Linked DNA regions of Homo sapiens. The protein of the gene in region 1 interacts with the protein of each later gene in a biochemical or structural test. Each region holds a gene or a part of one and is shown in the gene's direction. Other genes may lie near its edges.

Region 1 (4,180 bases):
AAGGGTGGGGGCTATAGTGTCCTTATTCGAGAGGGACTTACCTGTCCGGTGGGCATAGCCCTAACTCCTAAGGGGCAGCTGCTGGTCTTGGACTGTTGGGATCATTGCATCAAGATCTACAGCTACCATCTGAGAAGATATTCCACCCCATAGGGGATGAGAAATTATCAGTTTCTTCTGCTCCCAAGCCAACTTCCCTTCCCTTAGTTCTTGGTTGTTAGTGGCACATGCAGAATAGACTCAGCCTATGTCCTGATTCCAGCTGGGTAGTTCTAGAACTTCAGAAGCTCCATCTTTTAATGTTTTTATTTGTTATGTCCCCCTCCCCGCTTCCCACCTAAATTTAGAGCTTTAAAAGATGCACTGCCCAAATAGGACACACGATGGTGTTAGCTGAAGTTTGATTAGCAATTAGGCACTTCCAAGGCTTTAGTAGAGAGAGCCACTTTAGCCCTTTGTGCCATGTTTGAAATTTGCCCTTGTATTAAATCCTTGATTTTTTCCCATTTGGCTTTGATGCCCTTGATCCATTGTTTCCTTCCTACTATAATGTGCTTCATCTGTGACACTTTCTCTTGAACTCTGATTGGATTCACTGTGCATGCTTCAGTGGGATCTGCTCCACCTTTCAGTGACATTTAAGACATCATATTCCCGTAACATTATGTCTCAGTCTGATCGTCTTTACCAGTATGAAAGTCATTCATTTAGTGCTACCAAAGGGGATACACAAGCCCTTTAGGAAGCAGTACCTCTCGCCTGGAGGATCTGTGCCATCTTGGATTGAGAATTGCAGATGTGACAGAATGGATTGACCCTAGTTGGTTGGTATTGATGACTTCAGCCTGGAAATTGCTTGCCTTTTAAAGAAGCATATATGGGTTGGAATTATGCCAAAGCATAGGAAGCTGGGAATAAGCAAACAAATGCTGATATAGTCAGCAAATTTGGATAGTCTCTAGGGCTCATCATTTTTCATACTACCTCTCTCTTCTGGCCTGTGTCTAAGGAATTGTACAACATAGGCCAGGGCCAACAAAGTGGAGAGGTGGACACATTTTCATGTTCATTACTAAAACAAACAGCAAAACTATTGGTTTGTTATTCTGTGTTTTCCTCAAGTCAGTACATACTATTTGGTTTCAGGATTTCTTTCCATTTCTCTATCAAGCATTAAATAATTGAGAACTGTTTCTTCATCTCTGGTGTTCATGTCTTTTAATTAAATACGGAATTTTGGAGATGATAAGAGGGATAACCTGCGCTATGCCATTTTGCTTCCTTATCTCACTGTGTTCTTTCAGAGTGTAGATATCTACCCAGGTCAAAATTCAGCCAAAAGCACTATTATGTAAAGATAATAATCCAAATCTTTCTCCCAAATACATGTGTACAGAATCATCCCCCAAGGTTTAGAGTCACCAATACCCTATTCTGAGCTTCTGCTGTATGTTTTATGTTTATAATTACAGTTCACAAAAAGGAAGTTAGTCTTGTTTTTAAGATCAGAAGTGGGTGAGAGGACCTGTGATGAGGTTCCTGAGGGTTTGGTGTTTACTAAGTAATATATCTTACTCTAGGTGCAGGGCTGATGGCAAGCCAAAGAGCAACTGCCTTACTTTGATGTAAACAAAATTTGCTAAACTGAGCTGCTCAAAATTGTTTTTATGGTAGTAGTGTTTCTTTGGATTGTATCATAATAGCTGCCAAAGGATAGGTAAAGAGGTCATTAAAATGATGTTGAACTAGTTTGTCTTGTTCTTTTCATCTGGAGAAAGCCCCATATTCTGATTATGAAATTGCATCCGATTTTCAAAGATTGGGTAATTGAGAGGAAATTGATCCAATTGAAAGTGCATCACAAATGACTCCACTAGTTATTAGAGCCACTTTATCTGTGGGGGCACCCAGCAGCAGGAGATCTGTCTTTGCTGTCAGTGGGGGACTTGCTGAGGCAATAACAGTGGCTCAGGCCTTTGGCACACAGTTTGCAGTGGAGAGAGAAATATAATATTGTGGGCAGGCTGAAGGTAAATGAGGCCAGGAATCCTCCAGCTGTCTGTGCTTTTGAAAGAGGTGCCATCACTGAGTGACATTCAGCATTTAGATCTCTACCCATCTAAACCAGTCATGCCTTTTCCCTCAAGTAAAGCAGTTATCTGTTGGCTCAAAATGGAAGTGTGATCTGAGTCTTTTTCCTTTTTCCCCTTTGATGTGAATATTTTAGGCTGTGCTTAGTACAGTCGATGTTTAATTATCTGCTGTGTTGACTAAATTGCAGACTAGGGCCCCAAGAAACTAATTTGTTCAATTACAGCAGTTTTTTGGGTTTTTTTTTTTTTTTTGCTTTGTTTTTTAAAGCAGCAGTACCCTTGTCCAAATAAAGTCTTATATGGAAGTCTATCATGTAAAATAGATCAAAGAGCAGCTGCTCTGGTTGAAGCAGGTTTGTGCCGCTGAAGAATATGCTGTTTCCTCCCTTTACCTTACCTCCTGTGCTACCATTGCAAAACTTGTGAATCTACAGAATACTTTTCTGAAAACCACTGAACTACAGCATTGCTTACCTTATAGTTCTGTCTTATTAGTCATGTGGCCTTGGGCAAGTCATTTAACTCTTCCTCTTCTGGAAAATAACAAAAATGATCCCTGCCTCCTAGAAGGGTATGAGATAACATGTGAAAATAACCTGGTTTCATTCCTGGAATATTCCATAAATGATGGCTGTTACTCTTTTATCTAGTTGCTCAAAAGAGCACCTGATGGTGGGAAGTGGTCCAACCATGCTAAACAGTTCCTTTCTTCTTGCTTAACAGGTTTCTATTTGGTGATTAAAACCTTTCTCAGGCATTTCTTTCCCCTCACAAGTCTCCAAATATATCAAGTTCATCTCTTCCTTTCTACTGTCTATTTCACATTCCTATTATATAAATCACTGTGTTGCAATTATCTGTCCATATATTTGAGCTTTATTGAGGGCTAACTAATCTAGCTACCAGCATGTAACATGGTGCCTAGTATAGAATATGTTATCAGTTATTTAATTGGTTCAGGTATTTACCTGACTTAATGGGACTCCAGTAACCCGAGTCTTCCTAGTGTAGCCCCCTTAGATTAGATAAAAAAGGATACTCAGACAAGCCCTTTTATAAGGTGTTTAAAAGCTAGTGGCAAACAATTGACTTAGAGGTTGGTTAAGCCCCTCCTCCCTTTATCATTCTGAGTGGTTACATAGAATTTAAGATTTTGGAGCAATGATTCATTCAATATTTATTAACTACCTACTGTGGGCCAGTGTACACTCCGGACTTGAGTCTGTAGAGGGGCACTCTTATTCCAATCAGTAGAATAAACGTGGCGTGAGCTTTACAGTGTTCCTCTGGGTAAGGCAAGTAATGCTTAAGTAGTTGTACTTTTAATCTAGTGCTAATTAATGGCCTCTTAAAAGTGCAGTGTTGGGTCAAATGGTATTTCTAGTTCTAGATCCCTGAGGAATCGCCACACTGACTTCCACAATGGTTGAACTAGTTTACAGTCCCACCAACAGTGTAAAAGTGTTCCTATTTCTCCACATCCTCTCCAGCACCTGTTGTTTCCTGACTTTTTAATGATTGCCATTCTAACTGGTGTGAGATGGTATCTCATAGTGGTTTTGATTCGCATTTCTCTGATGGCCAGTGATGATGAGCATTTTTTCATGTATTTTTTGGCTGCATAAATGTCTTCTTTTGAGAAGTGTCTGTTCATGTCCTTCGCCCACTTTTTGATGGGGTTGTTTGTTTTTTTCTTGTAAATTTGTTTGAGTTCATTGCAGATTCTGGATATTAGCCCTTTGTCAGATGAGTAGGTTGCGAAAATTTTCTCCCATGTTGTAGGGACATGGATGAAATTGGAAACCATCATTCTCAGTAAACTATCGCAAGAACAAAAAACCAAACACCGCATATTCTCACTCATAGGTGGGAATTGAACAATGAGATCACATGGTCACAGGAAGGGGAATATCACACTCTGGGGACTGTGGTGGGGTGGGGGGAGTGGGGAGGGGTAGCATTGGGAGATATACCTAATGCTAGATGACGAGTTAGTGGGTGCAGCGCACCAGCATGGCACATGTATACGTATGTAACTAACCTGCACAATGTGCACATGTACCCTAAAACTTAAAGTATAATAATAA
Region 2 (4,466 bases), on another chromosome or scaffold:
TAACAGATTGGCAAAAATGTAAAGGATCATGTGTATATTCATTGCAGTGTTGCTTGTAATAGCATACAGCTTGAGTGACCTCCAGTAGAGGTGATGTTTAAATATATTTTGCTGCATTCTTAAAAGGAAATGTAGCATAATGCAGCCATTTGGAGAGAATGAGATAACTATATGCACTCTCTTTGAAAGTTTTGTGACTACTATGTGCCGGGAGTTGCACTGGGCTTTCTTTAAGGTATTTTCAGCAAACCTGTCTTTTAATGATTTATATTGTACCTAATAAGAGATATATGAATGGAAAAACAGTTTTTGCTCTCACATCATGACAATCAACACAAAAGACTTCTGTGACCAAATGTGTGGAGTTTTCTTCCACCAACAAGCAAGCAATCAATTCTGCAGCGGACACCAGCTGGGTATCATCTAATTCAATTCTGACACTGTCTACTTGGAGATAGGGTCAGATCCCTTAGGTTTAGGGCTTAGTCCTGCAAGAGGGACCCCCATTTCTGATGCCAATCCAAGCCCTAAGTTGTTTTACCTGTGCTTCTGACTGACCAGCTACACATGAGGAATCCTATTAATACACACCTTGGGGTGTATTAATTTGCTAGAGGAGCTAACAAAACTGAGGGAAACATGTTTTCCAGTTTATTATAAAGATATTACAGAGACCCTGGGCAACATGGAGAAACCCTGTCTCTACTAAAAATACAAAAAATTAGCCGAGCGTCATGGCTTGCAAGTGTAGTCCCAGCTACTTGGGAGGCTGAGGTGGGAGAATCACCTGAACCTGAGAAGTCTAGGCTGCAGTGAGCCATAATTGTACCATTGTCCTCCAGCCTGGGCAACAGGAGTGAGATCCTGTCTCCAAAAAAAAATACTAGGATACAAATGAAGAGATGCATACTGTGAAGTATGGGAAGGGGCACAGAGCTTCCATGTCCTCCCTGCCTGTGATATCCAGGAAATTCCTCCAGGAACTTCCACATGTTCAGCTATCCAGTAGCTCTTTGTACCCCATCCTCTTGAGCCTTTTATGGAGATTTCAATGGATAGGCATGACTGAAGCATGGACAATCATTTTGGAAATGTGATTGGACAAAAAAGATATGATCTGATACTAACAGACTGAGTGGGGAAACCCAGCAAGGCCTGTCTGCTCAGATTCTTCTTGGCTTCTCTGTTCAGCATTCCTTCCAGGATATAGGGCAAGACCCATTCTGAAACAGGGGTCTTATGACCTACAGCTAGACAAGATAGGTCAGAGAAAGGCAGGGATGATTAGAGTTCTGCTTTGGAGAGAAGGAGCAGGTGAAAGGAGGAGAGGAGGAAGTCAGAAATAGATTCTGTTTTCTGAGGCCTAAAGCACCCTAACATAACAAGACTGTAACAAAGGCTATGGGAGTTATGAGCCAGAAACTGTGGACAAAAACATATATATGTATATGTATATATGTATGTATGGAAATGATCACACGCTCTATCTACTTCATAGCCCTGTTGTGAGGATTACACAAGACAGTGTATAGTATATTAACATAGTGCTTAGCTTATATTAAACAGTTGATACATGTTAGCTTTACTATAAATAAGGAAATACGCTTTTATTATATAAGGATATCTTTGAGCTTCAAATGCTTTAAAACTTTTTTTTTTTAGAGACAGGGTCTTGCTTTGTTGACCAGGCTAGTCTTGAACACCAATTCTCAAGCGATTCTTCAGCCTTAAACTTTTTTTACATAGAGAAAGTTTTAGCAACAAATTAGGATGTGGACCTTGTTTTTTAATGTTAGGAGAATTGATTTTATTCAATATACTATTTACTTATTTATTAATTATTATTATTATTATTTTGAGACAGAGTCTAGCTCTGTCACTCAGGCTGGAGTGCAGTGATGTGATCTCAGGTCACTCAACCTCCACCTCCTAGGTTCAAGCTATTCTGCCTCAGCCTCCTGAGTAACTGGGATTACAGGCACGCGCCACCATGCCCAGCTGATTTTTTGTATTCTTAGTAGAAATGGGGTTTCACCATGTTGGCCAGGCTGGTCTTGAACTCCTGACCGCAAGTGATTCACCCACCTTGGCCTCCCAAAGTGCTGGGATTATAGGTGTGAGCCACTGCCCCTGGCCTTATTCACTATACTATTTAGAAGCAATCTTTGATTATCTTATATTTATGTAACATTTCTGAGCATTAGTGTGTTGAAGGTCAGTGCTTCACTAGGAGGGCTCACAGGACTCAGAATATAGTGTACTTACAGCTATGATTTATTACAGTGAAGGGAAATAAAGCAAAATCAGCAAAGGGAAAAAGCATATTGGGGGAAATCAGGTACAAACTTCTGAGTTCTCTCCCAGTGGAGTTACGTAGGATATGCTTAATTCCTCCAGCAACCAGCTATGACAACATGTTTGAAGTGTTGTCTACCAAGGAAGCTCAACTAGACACTCAGTGATCAGAATTTTTATTGGAGGATGGCCACATAGGCACCCTCTGTATAGGTACTCTCGACTGGCATGTACCAGAATTCTAAGACTCCTGGAAGGAAGGCGGGTATTCAGCATGAACCACATTGTTTTTCATAAACAGTTTTAGGCACAGGGAGCCACTCTTACCAGAGAATGGCAGAAACCCTCCTGAAATCTAAGTTCTAGATGCCAGTCAAAGGCCAACCTTGTAAGCACACCTTTGAAAGTATAGTAGTCTTAGGCCTGTCATGTTAGCTCTTTTTTGCAGTTCTTCTTGTGTGATTAAAGGAAGTTAATTCCTATCCTAGAATTATTGTGCAGATTAGAGAGAGAATGTGAAGCTCCTATCACAGTTCCTGACTCTTAGTGAGTGCACAATAAACAATACCTGCTATAGCTGTTACATGTGAGGTATAGGAATCTTGAGCTCTTTTACACTGGTTAGAAAAACCAGTTTTCTATAAGGAAGAAATGAAAAAATCTACATTCTGCCTCTCAAACAAGGCAAGAAAAGCTGTTTTTATTTATATTGAAATTATATTTCAAACATTATTTAGGTAGTGAACATTTCCTGGCTTTTTGACCTTTATTCTCTGATTCTGTTAAAATATAGGTAATAAGAGAAATGAAGCCAACAGGTACAGACCCAAGGATCTTATCTATAGCTGCTGAAGTTGCAAAAAGCCCTGAGCAGAATGTCCCTGTTATACTGTTGAAGTTAAAAGGTAAGAAAATCTTTTTGTGATTAGATAGCATTTTAAGTGAAAAATGGTTCCATCGTTGGTACAATTTTAACATTTCTTTTAAATTTGTTCAGAGAGGTCTTAACACTATAATAGAACAGTAATTTTTCCTTCTAATATATTTTTAGTGATTATTCAACATATAAAAATACAAATAGCTCCTGGATGTATTAAGCAAAAATAAATATATCTTATTTCCTTTTGCCTTAGAAATAATAAACATCACACCTTTAGGAAGCTCAGAGTTGAAGAAAATCAAACAAGATATATATTGTTATGATCTCATTCAATATTGCCTCTTGGTCCTCAGTCAAGATTATTCTCGAATCCAGGGTGGTTGGACTACAATTTCCCAGCTTACACAGATATTAAGGTAAAATAAAGCAGTAAGTCAGCTGTTCTTGAGGGATGTAGTAGTTGATTCTGATTTTCAACATTTGCTTTTTATTTATCTGCCTAACAAGCATTGGCAACCTCCTGTTGTAGGTTTTGGTTGTACTTTTCCTTCATATTATATGTTATTATTCATAATTTTACTTCAGATTATTTGACTGTCTAAAATTTTCCTCCACAAGCTTAATGAAGATGGTGATCATTTTTTTTCTCACCACTGAATTCCAAGTGCCTAATATACTTTTTATTGATTAAGGAATTTTTAAAGAAGTGAAGAAATTAAGGCACTGGCTCTGTACCTGAGAAACTTAAAATAGAGATTGGGTGACAGTCATGTAAGTATATGATACAAAGCAGAATGAAATCAGTGCTAAAATGAAAGTATGCAAGCAAGTACTATAGGAGAACTGATAAAGAAACATTTTATTTCACTATATCAATGTAGCTATCAACTGTGTATTTCATTAAGCAACCCAAATACTGTCAATAAAATTTAGAAGTAGAATTTACTGATCTACTGCCATGCTAGAAATTAATAGAAGAGAAATAAACATTTTTTAAAGGAGGTAGTAAAATAAACCAGATGTTCTTAGTGCCTAAGCTACTTCCTGATTAATAAGTGAAAGTGTGTATTTACTAACTGGATCCTAGCCTTCTTTTTTTGTTTTTCCTAAATAAGCCATTTGAATTTAATAAGCTATTCCCACTGAAAGGGTTTGTCTTGGATGCTAGATTTCTAAGCTGCTTAATCCTACTGTGTTACTTGGTAAAGGCCAAATTTAAAGCACACAGTTACAAAGAACAGTTGAAAAATATATGTGATATTCTTTTTCATACTTTAATTTTCAAGATTGA
Region 3 (4,466 bases), on another chromosome or scaffold:
TACACGATGGGTGTCCTCATTGTGAAATTAGCGACACAGGCCTTGCTGGTGCCTGGTAGGGAGCAAGACGCTGGCATCCCGATTCTTTACAGTCACGGGGCCCCGCAGCCCTGATATGGGAAGAGGCTTCTCCCGAGGCTCTTTGGGCAGGGCTGGGCCGCCTGCACGTGTGTCCCTGTCATTTTGAGCCTGGACAGCCTCTCCGTCTCCAACAGGACCCTGGCCCGATACAGCTGGAAGAAATCAGAGCTGACAGATGAGGACCCGACAGTGGGCCCCGGCTGCTGCAGCTTTGGTGCTGAAATGTGCGGCTAGGCTCCTGGTCTCACCCTGGGGCAGCCAGGAGCCGGAAACCTCAGCGCCTCCTGGCACGGAGGCTGCAGTTTACATACCCCACTGGGACTGCCTCTGGCTTCGACCCTCAGGGTCTTTCGAGTGGAGTTTGAATGGTTTATTGGTTTCTTCGGGTACCCGCCAGCTTTCCTTAACACCCTTGACGCTTGAGCTTTCTCCCCATTCCTCCTGGAAGCTACTGTTTCCCACCACATCTCATTCATCCCAGGCCAGCTTCAGGGCTAAGGGTGGGTGGCCCTGAAACCCTGCCAGCCCATCCCTCGAGGACACCTGGCTTCTGCAGCCTGTTGAGGAGCCTTCCTTCCCCTTCAGGGTCCTACCCCTCATGGAGGTCAGGCCACTGCCAGTCTACCCCACCTCAAACACCAGGGTCAGCTGGGCTCTGCTGTTTGGTTTTTATTTCGCTGGAGAGGCCCGGCCAGGCGATGAGGGCCAGGTCCTGCCAAGCCTCATTTGTCGCTTTGACCCAGGTCCTGCAACAGCCCCTGTGGCTGCTATCTTCCCCTTGGACCGGTCCCCCAGGGACTCAGGGCAACGTGTGGAGGTGTGTTTGGTGTGGAGGTGTGTTTGGTGTGGAGGTGTGGGGGGTGTGGAGGTGTGTGGGGTGTGGAGGTGTGTGGGGTGTGGAGGTGTGTGGGGTGTGGAGGTGTGTGGGGTGTGGAGGTGTGTGGGGTGTGGAGGTGTGTGGGGTGTGGAGGTGTGTGGGGTGTGGAGGTGTGTGGGGTGTGGAGGTGTGTGGGGTGTGGAGGTGTGTGGGGTGTGGAGGTGTGTTTGGTGTGGAGCTGTGGGGTGTGGAGGTGTGGGGGGTGTGGAGGTGTGTGGGGTGTGGAGGTGTGTGGGGTGTGGAGGTGTGTGGGGTGTGGAGGTGTGTGGGGTGTGGAGGTGTGTGGGGTGTGGAGGTGTGTGGGGTGTGGAGGTGTGTGGGGTGTGGAGGTGTGTGGGGTGTGGAGGTGTGTGGGGTGTGGAGGTGTGTGGGGTGTGGAGGTGTGTTTGGTTGTCGTGAGCTGTGGGTATTTAGCACCACACAGAGCCCAGGATGGCCCCAGTGTCCACAGGGCCAAGGAGGAGAAACCCTGCCTGGGATGATCAGCAGATGTTTCGGAGGCCCCCACAGGCCCAGCCCTGTGTTGACATCCAGAGGGTAGTGTGGCAGCAAGAACCGCCCCTGGCTTCAGAGCCAGGCCTGGGTTCGAATCTTGGCGCTGCCACCTCTGAGCCGACAGTTCCTCATTTGTGACAGAGCTCACACACCAGCCTAGCAGGGGTGTTTTAAGGATCAGAGTTAAATATATAATCACATGACCGGCTTGGTTCCCGGCAGGTGATTAGTACTAAGTAAACTGTGGCTACCGTTGGCGAGACCGAAGGGAAAACATATCTGTGGCTGACATGGGTTGAGCGCCCGCCCAGCCAGTGCTTTATGTCATTATCCTCCCGACGTAGAGACTGAGGGTCAGAGAGGCATTTGGTGTTTGCCGGTAAGGCACTGGCAGAGGCTGTTTACAAGTAAAGCACAATTGTCAGTTCCTGCCCTGGGGATGCTTTCAGGCTGAAGACAGGGAAAGAGAACCTAAAATAGAAGGGGGGGCCTAGTCAGAGGCGCTTTTGCTGCGTTGGCGATGCTGGGGAAAGTTTGATGAGGAGGAGGGAGGGGGCAGGGCTTTGCTGGGAGGGGGCACCGTAGGGGCAGGGCACTCCACCAGCCCCAGCCAAGGCTGGCGCTTCCTGGCGAGTGGGTGTCTTTCACGGCCCCCACATCGGGGCCTGGCCTCCATGGAGTCCCCTGCCTCGCAGCTGTGTCCTCTGAGTGTGTGTGTGCTTGCTCCTCCTCAGAACATGGTGATGAGTTTTCGAGTCTCCGACCTTCAGATGCTCCTGGGTTTCGTGGGCCGGAGTAAGAGTGGACTGAAGCACGAGCTCGTCACCAGGGCCCTCCAGCTGGTGCAGTTTGACTGTAGCCCTGAGCTGTTCAAGAAGATCAAGGAGCTGTACGAGACCCGCTACGCCAAGAAGAACTCGGAGCCTGCCCCACAGCCGCACCGGCCCCTGGACCCCCTGACCATGCACTCCACCTACGACCGGGCCGGCGCTGTGCCCAGGACTCCGCTGGCAGGCCCCAATATTGACTACCCCGTGCTCTACGGAAAGTACTTAAACGGACTGGGACGGTTGCCCGCCAAGACCCTCAAGCCAGAAGTCCGCCTGGTGAAGCTGCCGTTCTTTAATATGCTGGATGAGCTGCTGAAGCCCACCGAATTAGGTGAGTGGTCACCCTGGGGAGGCTGCGACTGGAGGCTTCACCTAGGCCCCGTCGCCCAGCCCAGCCCAGCCACACAGCCGACTTCGAGTGATGTTCTCTGTGGCGCAGCCAGGGCGGGGAGCCACAGTGGCCAGGGGTGTCCTTCCTCGGAAGCAAAGGGACCATCTTTGATATTGGTCACCCCTTGCTGTGTTACAAGTTACCCCGAAATGGAGCCACTGGAAGCAGGGGGCGTCTGTTAGCTCTCAGGAACCTGTGAGCTGTGTTGCGGGGCATTGGGGCTTGGGGGCTCTCATGAGGCTCAGTCAGGCTGGAGCCACCTCATCTGGAGGCTCGACCAGGGCTGGAGCAGGCACATCCTTGTGTGGTGGCTGGCAGGCCTCAGCTCCTCGCCAGCTCTTGGCCACAGTCCCCAGGTCCTCATGGTGCGGACTCCTGCACGGATTGCCTGGGCGTCCTCAGCCTGGTGGCTCCCTCACCCTAGGGTAGCGAGTGTGCACCTCCAAGCTGGGAGCTGGAGCCCTTTTTATAACCCAACCTCGGACACGCCTCGCCATCTCCCCCACAGAGTCCGTTGCTCACACAGACTCTGTGGCGCATGCAGGGACCACACCAGGCTGTGACTGCCAGGGCCAGGGGTGACCAGGGCCACCTGGGAGCCTGGTTTCCCTGCTTATTCCCCTTGGAAAGGGGGCTGGCCAGTGGCATCCTTCCCCCGGGCTCTGGTTCCTCGCTGGCAGCCTGCAGGAGTGTCCTTGGTCAGTGGGCTCAGGTCACTGCCAGGCTGTGTGCACCGGGCGTGCTGGGGGTTCAGGGCGATCCCAGGCGGAGGAGAGGTGCTGGGCTCCACGCTTCTCTCTCTCGTGTCTTTGTCTGCAAGCACTGACTGAGCAGGAACTGTGTGTCAGGACCTCATAGCCCACAGCAGTGTGGACAGGCCCCTGGTGCCTCCCCAGCAGCCGTGGCCATTCAGGCTGCAGGTGGGCATTGAGCCCAGTCTCTGCCTCAGCCATAGCCCTGAGCTCAGGGCCAGGGAGGCCTCCGCAGCCCCAGCCCCCAGGGCAGAGAGAGTGTGCAGCCTCTGGGACTCCCAGATAGGGAGCGGAACGTCCTGGGCCTTTGCGGACCTGTGCCTTGAGGCGCTCAGATTTCACCAAGTCCTCTGTGTGCCTGGAGGTCTCTCCGTCTCTTCTTCCTGCCTCCCCTCCCCTGCCCCCACTCTTTCCTTCGCACAGTAAACATCGGAGCGCCTGCTGGGTGGGTGCGTGATGGGCACCAGGCGTGGGCACGCAGCAGGGAACAGGACCAAGGCCACGAGGTTCAGAACCCTGTGCATGCCCCCTCCCACCCTGCTGACCCAGCAACCTGCCTGGCCCCTGCTGTGGCCTGAGGGCCCTTCTCTGGCACGCTTCAGTCCATTGGGTGCCAGCTGGCCCCCGCTCCCCTGCCCAGGGAGGCAGCGTTGATGGGGGTAGGGGGAAGGGGAACTGGCTGCTTTTCCCCTCCCATCTGCAGCCCTGGGACTTAGTGAGGTTAGGCTGGAGGGGCTGTGCTTCCAGGTGAGGATGGAGGAAGTGGAGGAGGGAGGAAGGTGCTGTCGGTGGTTCCTGCGGCAGCCGAGGCTCCTCCCTCCAGCCTGAGGCTCCGCCTTCCAAGTGAGGCTCCGCCTCCACCTTTTTTCTCTTGCAGGAGGTGTCTAGCAGCAGCCTCCTGGGGAGCAGGTTGGCCCAGTGGCACCTGTCCTGGGGGACTCAGGGTCTTGGCCTGAGTTCCATCGGACTGACTTTCCCAGCCTTTGCTCTCTCATGAGGGAAGCTGTTCCCCCTGCCAGGTTCTTGGGCAGAGCTGGCTG
Region 4 (4,466 bases), on another chromosome or scaffold:
AGACGGAGCTTCGCTCTTTTGCCTAGGCTGGAGAGCAATGGCATGATCGGGGCTCACCGCAACCTCCACCTCCGGGGTTCAAGCGATTCTCCTGCCTCAGCCTCCCAAGTAGCTGGGATTACAGGCATGCGCCACCATGCCTAGCTAATTTTATATTTTTAGTAGAGGTGGGATTTCTCCATGTTGATCAGGCTGGTCTCGAACTCCTGACCTGAGCCGATCCACCCGCCTCGGCCTCCCAAAATGCTGGGATTACAGGTGTGAGCCACCATGCCCAGACTTTTTTTGAGATGGAGTCTCGCCCTGTCACCCAGGCTGGAGTGCAATGGCACGATCTCAGCTCACTGCAACCTCCGCCTCCTGGCTTCAAATGATTCTCCTGCCTCAGCCTCCCGAGTAGCTGGGATTACAGGCACGTGCCACCATGCCCGGCTGATTTTGTATTTTTAGTAGAGATGGGATTTCTCCATGTTGATCAGGCTGGTCTCGAACTCCTGACCTGAGGTGATCCACCCGCCTCGGCCTCCCAAAGTGCTGGGATTACAGGCGTGAGCCACCGCACCCGGCTCAGGACTATGACTTTTAAAGGGTCTGTGGATAATAGACCTGCGAGGGAGGTAGTGAGGTCAGAAGCAGGAAGAACAGGTTAGGAGGCTGTTGTAGTATGCCAGGTCAGAGCTGATGGTTGCTTGGATCAGAGGTGTAGCAGTGGAATGGTGAGAAACAGTCCAATCATGAGTAGAATTTGAAGTATAAAAAAAACCAATTTGCCAATCAGGCTAGATGTGTGTGGCATATGAAGGAAAAGGTGGATCATTTGGAAAGATGGGTTTGCCAGTAACTGATGTGGGGAAGACTTTATGGGAGGAGCAAAGGTTGGGGATAGGGAGGTCATGTTAAGTTTGGGATGCTTATTAGACATTCAAGAGTGTATATCAAGCAGGTAGTTATAGAGGCAAGAGGCACGATGAGGGGAGAGGTCTGGGCTAGATATGAATTAGGGGAGGCTTCAGCTTATAGAGTGTGTTTAGTATTTAAATTCATTGCATTACATGAGATCACTGTGGAAATGTATAAACAGAGAGGAAGCCCTAGAATAGAGCCCCAGTGCATTTCAGTGTTGCGATGTTGGGAGATAGAAGAAACCAACAAGGAAACTAAAGGAAGCTGCTGCCAGACAAGGAGGAAGAGAGCCATGAGAATGTTTATAGGAAGTTAGATAAAGCTTTGCAAAGAGGAAGGAGACCAGCTGGATAAGATGTCGCATTTAGGTAAGATAAAGATTAAGCACTGGACATTTGATTTAACCTTGTGGAAATCATTGGTGACCTTAACAAACAAGTTAGCGATAACTACAGCTTGATTGGAGGGTATGTTCAAGACAGAAGAGGAGGAGAGAAATTGGAGACAAGCAAAGTAGAGGTTCCTCTTCAAAGACTTTCCTCCCCATCTAATTAGGAATAAATAGTAACTTCTCTTAGAAGCAAAATTTATTCGAAGACCTGTGCAAACATTCTTAAATATTTGCTAGCCATAATAAAGAAATCAATATACTTTATGTTCTTAGCTCCCACAATTTAGCCTAAATATTTGCCCTGGCATGCTTATACTGGTCCAAGCAAGCATTAGGTCATAGCCTGTTCCTCTTCCTTATTTAAAAGTGTTTTTACCTTTCTCAGCATTCCACAAGTTACTTCCTCCTTCCTTTGTTCCCCTCTACCTTTACCTCTTTTAAAAAGTTCTAAGTTGCTAGCCAGTCAGGACAAATACAGAATGTGAGATCCCGTTCCAGCCAGTGGAAACCGGACACAGCAGTAGGGTGGACGCGTCAGGTTATAAATGACCCTGTCTCCTTTGTTCAGTATACTCTTGTGGCAAAACTCCTGGCGAGTGTACCCTTTCTGCAGGAAGTAAAAATGGCTTTACTAAATAAATTAAATTTATGTTCAAGTGCTATTTCTTTATGGTACCGAAGAACAAACATTTCAGAGATCAGTAAGATCTAGTGCTCAAGACCGATTGGCCCTAGCCAAGAGTACGTGACATTTCATCTATACAGGAGAAAAACCAGAGTGTATGGGTGCAGATGCAGGGAAATGTCCAAATGCTACAGTGGGAACTGATGGAAGTATCTAACTTGTCATGAAATAGGAAGCAGGACATCAGCCACAAGTGAGGATGGGGATGGAGATGCTGGAGGTTTGAAGAGAGAAGAGAAATAATAATAATACAATTATTTAGGGGAGAGGGAGAATGATGAAAAAGAGAACTAATGGTATGATTGTTGGGAGTATTAAGGGTTCCTCTGAAGTTAATTGTCAATTTTAGAGTAATCAGCATTGTTAAATATATTTCTTTAGTCCTGTTCAGGTACCTGGGCCTCTTCTTATCTCCTTTCTTTAGTCCGTTACATTTTTCAGAGGGGAGGTTTTCAGTGGGTTTAAAAACTAATTTTTGGCCGAGTGTGTTGGCCCATACCTGTAATCTCAGCACTTTGGGAAGCCAAGGCGAGCAAATCACTTGAGGCCAGGAGTTCAAGACCAGCCTGGCCAACAGGGTGATACCGTCTCTACTAAAAATACAAAAATTAGCTAGGTGTGGTGGCGCACACCTGTAATCCCAGCTACTCAGGAGGCCGAGTTGGGAGGATCACCTGGGCCCAGGGAGGTCGAGGCTGCAGTGAGCCAAGATCTTGCCACTGCACTCCAGCGTGAGTGACAAAGTGAGATCTTGTCTCAAAAACAAACAAACAAGCCAAAAAAAACCACCAAAAAAGCTAATTTTACTTTTTAAATAGCTTGGTTTTGGTTGAGTTTAGAGCAAGTTGCCTTACTTATGTAATCCTAATGTTACTTTATTTTACTTGAGTAAAAAATCAGTTTTATTAAGCTAATTTTATTAACATATTTGTAGACATTTGTAGCCAAAATGTATGATAACATCATTAGTATTCGCTTGCAGTTTCATTCAGCTGGTTGTAATTATTTAAATGGTATTTTTTTGAATTTTGCATTTTATAAGCTAAATCTGTTGGGAGATTGGAGCTGTTCTATTATGCGTAGTTCTAAGAGATGAACTTTCTAATTTTACTTTTGGTGTCTAGCAAAATGACATTTGTTTCACAAATGTGTTTGTTTTTCTGTCATAGGAAACCCAGCGTTTGCTGGCAGAACCAGTTCCTGGCATCAAAGCCGAACCAGATGAGAGCAACGCCCGTTATTTTCATGTGGTCATTGCTGGCCCTCAGGATTCCCCCTTTGAGGGAGGGACTTTTAAACTTGAACTATTCCTTCCAGAAGAATACCCAATGGCAGCCCCTAAAGTACGTTTCATGACCAAAATTTATCATCCTAATGTAGACAAGTTGGGAAGAATATGTTTAGATATTTTGAAAGGTAAGTGTTATCTTTATCAGCATATGCTATTATTAAGCTTTCTCCTTTTTCTCTTAAGCATTCCATGTTTAGAATGTAAACATTATACAAAGATCAGAGAGGTCTGTGGGAGGGAAGTGAAGCAGTTCTGGGCCTGTTTTTTTCATGCTTTATCATACTGGGCCTGTTGCCTTCATAGATAAGTGGTCCCCAGCACTGCAGATCCGCACAGTTCTGCTATCGATCCAGGCCTTGTTAAGTGCTCCCAATCCAGATGATCCATTAGCAAATGATGTAGCGGAGCAGTGGAAGACCAACGAAGCCCAAGCCATAGAAACAGGTATCTAATATTCATTCTCCTTCACACCACTTCCACTTTTACAAATTTGTATTACCACTTAAACTTTTCTAAAGCTCTTGGCAAGGAAAAGAAATAGAAAAAAGTATAATAAGTGAGATCCTGCTTATAGTATGTAAATACGTCTTAACAAAATGGCTTGCTATGGGACCCCCCAAATATAAAGACAACCTGTAATTGAAAGATCTTGGAGTCTCTTGTAACTACACCTGGTTTAACAAATACTGAGTGCATACCATTTATCTAGTTATATGTAAAGAATACTGGAAAACTTGAACTGTTTTTGTAACCCATTTGATTAAAGTATTCAGCTGTTTATGGCTACGGAATTTGGAGTCAAGAAGCTTCTGCTACAGATTTTAAGAAAATTAGTGGGGAGAATTGTGTATCTAGAAATGGACAACTTGATTCATCCTCTTGAATTTTCTAGAACTTCTTAATTTTATTGTAGTGTTTTGGTAATTGGACATTTACAAAATCTTTCAGCCCTGATCCAATTTATAGAAAAAGGCGTGAATTTAACAGATTACAGCATGACATTTCCATAATTAATAGTGGTTGTTTGCCATTTATAGTTTGGAAAGTAACATATTGAACTAAGTAAAATAATAATCGTATGTTTGTTTCTGTCTACAGCTAGAGCATGGACTAGGCTATATGCCATGAATAATATTTAAATTGATACGATCATCAAGTGTGCATCACTTCTCCTGTTCTGCCAAGACTTCCTCCTC

Evidence for each region.
Region 2: the proteins of TRIM32 (region 1) and IQCB1 form a complex in vitro, tested with the Homo sapiens proteins (one study listed by BioGRID).
Region 3: of the proteins of TRIM32 (region 1) and PIAS4, one has a biochemical effect on the other in vitro, tested with the Homo sapiens proteins (one study listed by BioGRID).
Region 4: the proteins of TRIM32 (region 1) and UBE2N form a complex in vitro, tested with the Homo sapiens proteins (one study listed by BioGRID).

What each region holds. Positions count from the first base shown.
Region 1 is NC_000009.12:116,699,552-116,703,731, forward strand, and holds the end of TRIM32 (E3 ubiquitin-protein ligase TRIM32), read left to right. Parts: coding exon 1-153; 3' UTR 154-1,748; downstream 1,749-4,180. UniProt on the Homo sapiens protein: E3 ubiquitin ligase that plays a role in various biological processes including neural stem cell differentiation, innate immunity, inflammatory resonse and autophagy.
Region 2 is NC_000003.12:121,827,595-121,832,060, reverse strand, and holds part of IQCB1 (IQ calmodulin-binding motif-containing protein 1), read left to right. Parts: intron 1-3,088; 5' UTR 3,089-3,100; coding exon 3,101-3,200; intron 3,201-3,428; coding exon 3,429-3,591; intron 3,592-4,466. UniProt on the Homo sapiens protein: Involved in ciliogenesis. The function in an early step in cilia formation depends on its association with CEP290/NPHP6.
Region 3 is NC_000019.10:4,010,736-4,015,201, forward strand, and holds part of PIAS4 (E3 SUMO-protein ligase PIAS4), read left to right. Parts: intron 1-2,187; coding exon 2,188-2,614; intron 2,615-4,466.
Region 4 is NC_000012.12:93,409,982-93,414,447, reverse strand, and holds part of UBE2N (ubiquitin-conjugating enzyme E2 N), read left to right. Parts: intron 1-3,148; coding exon 3,149-3,395; intron 3,396-3,573; coding exon 3,574-3,714; intron 3,715-4,368; coding exon 4,369-4,409; 3' UTR 4,410-4,466. UniProt on the Homo sapiens protein: The UBE2V1-UBE2N and UBE2V2-UBE2N heterodimers catalyze the synthesis of non-canonical 'Lys-63'-linked polyubiquitin chains. This type of polyubiquitination does not lead to protein degradation by the proteasome.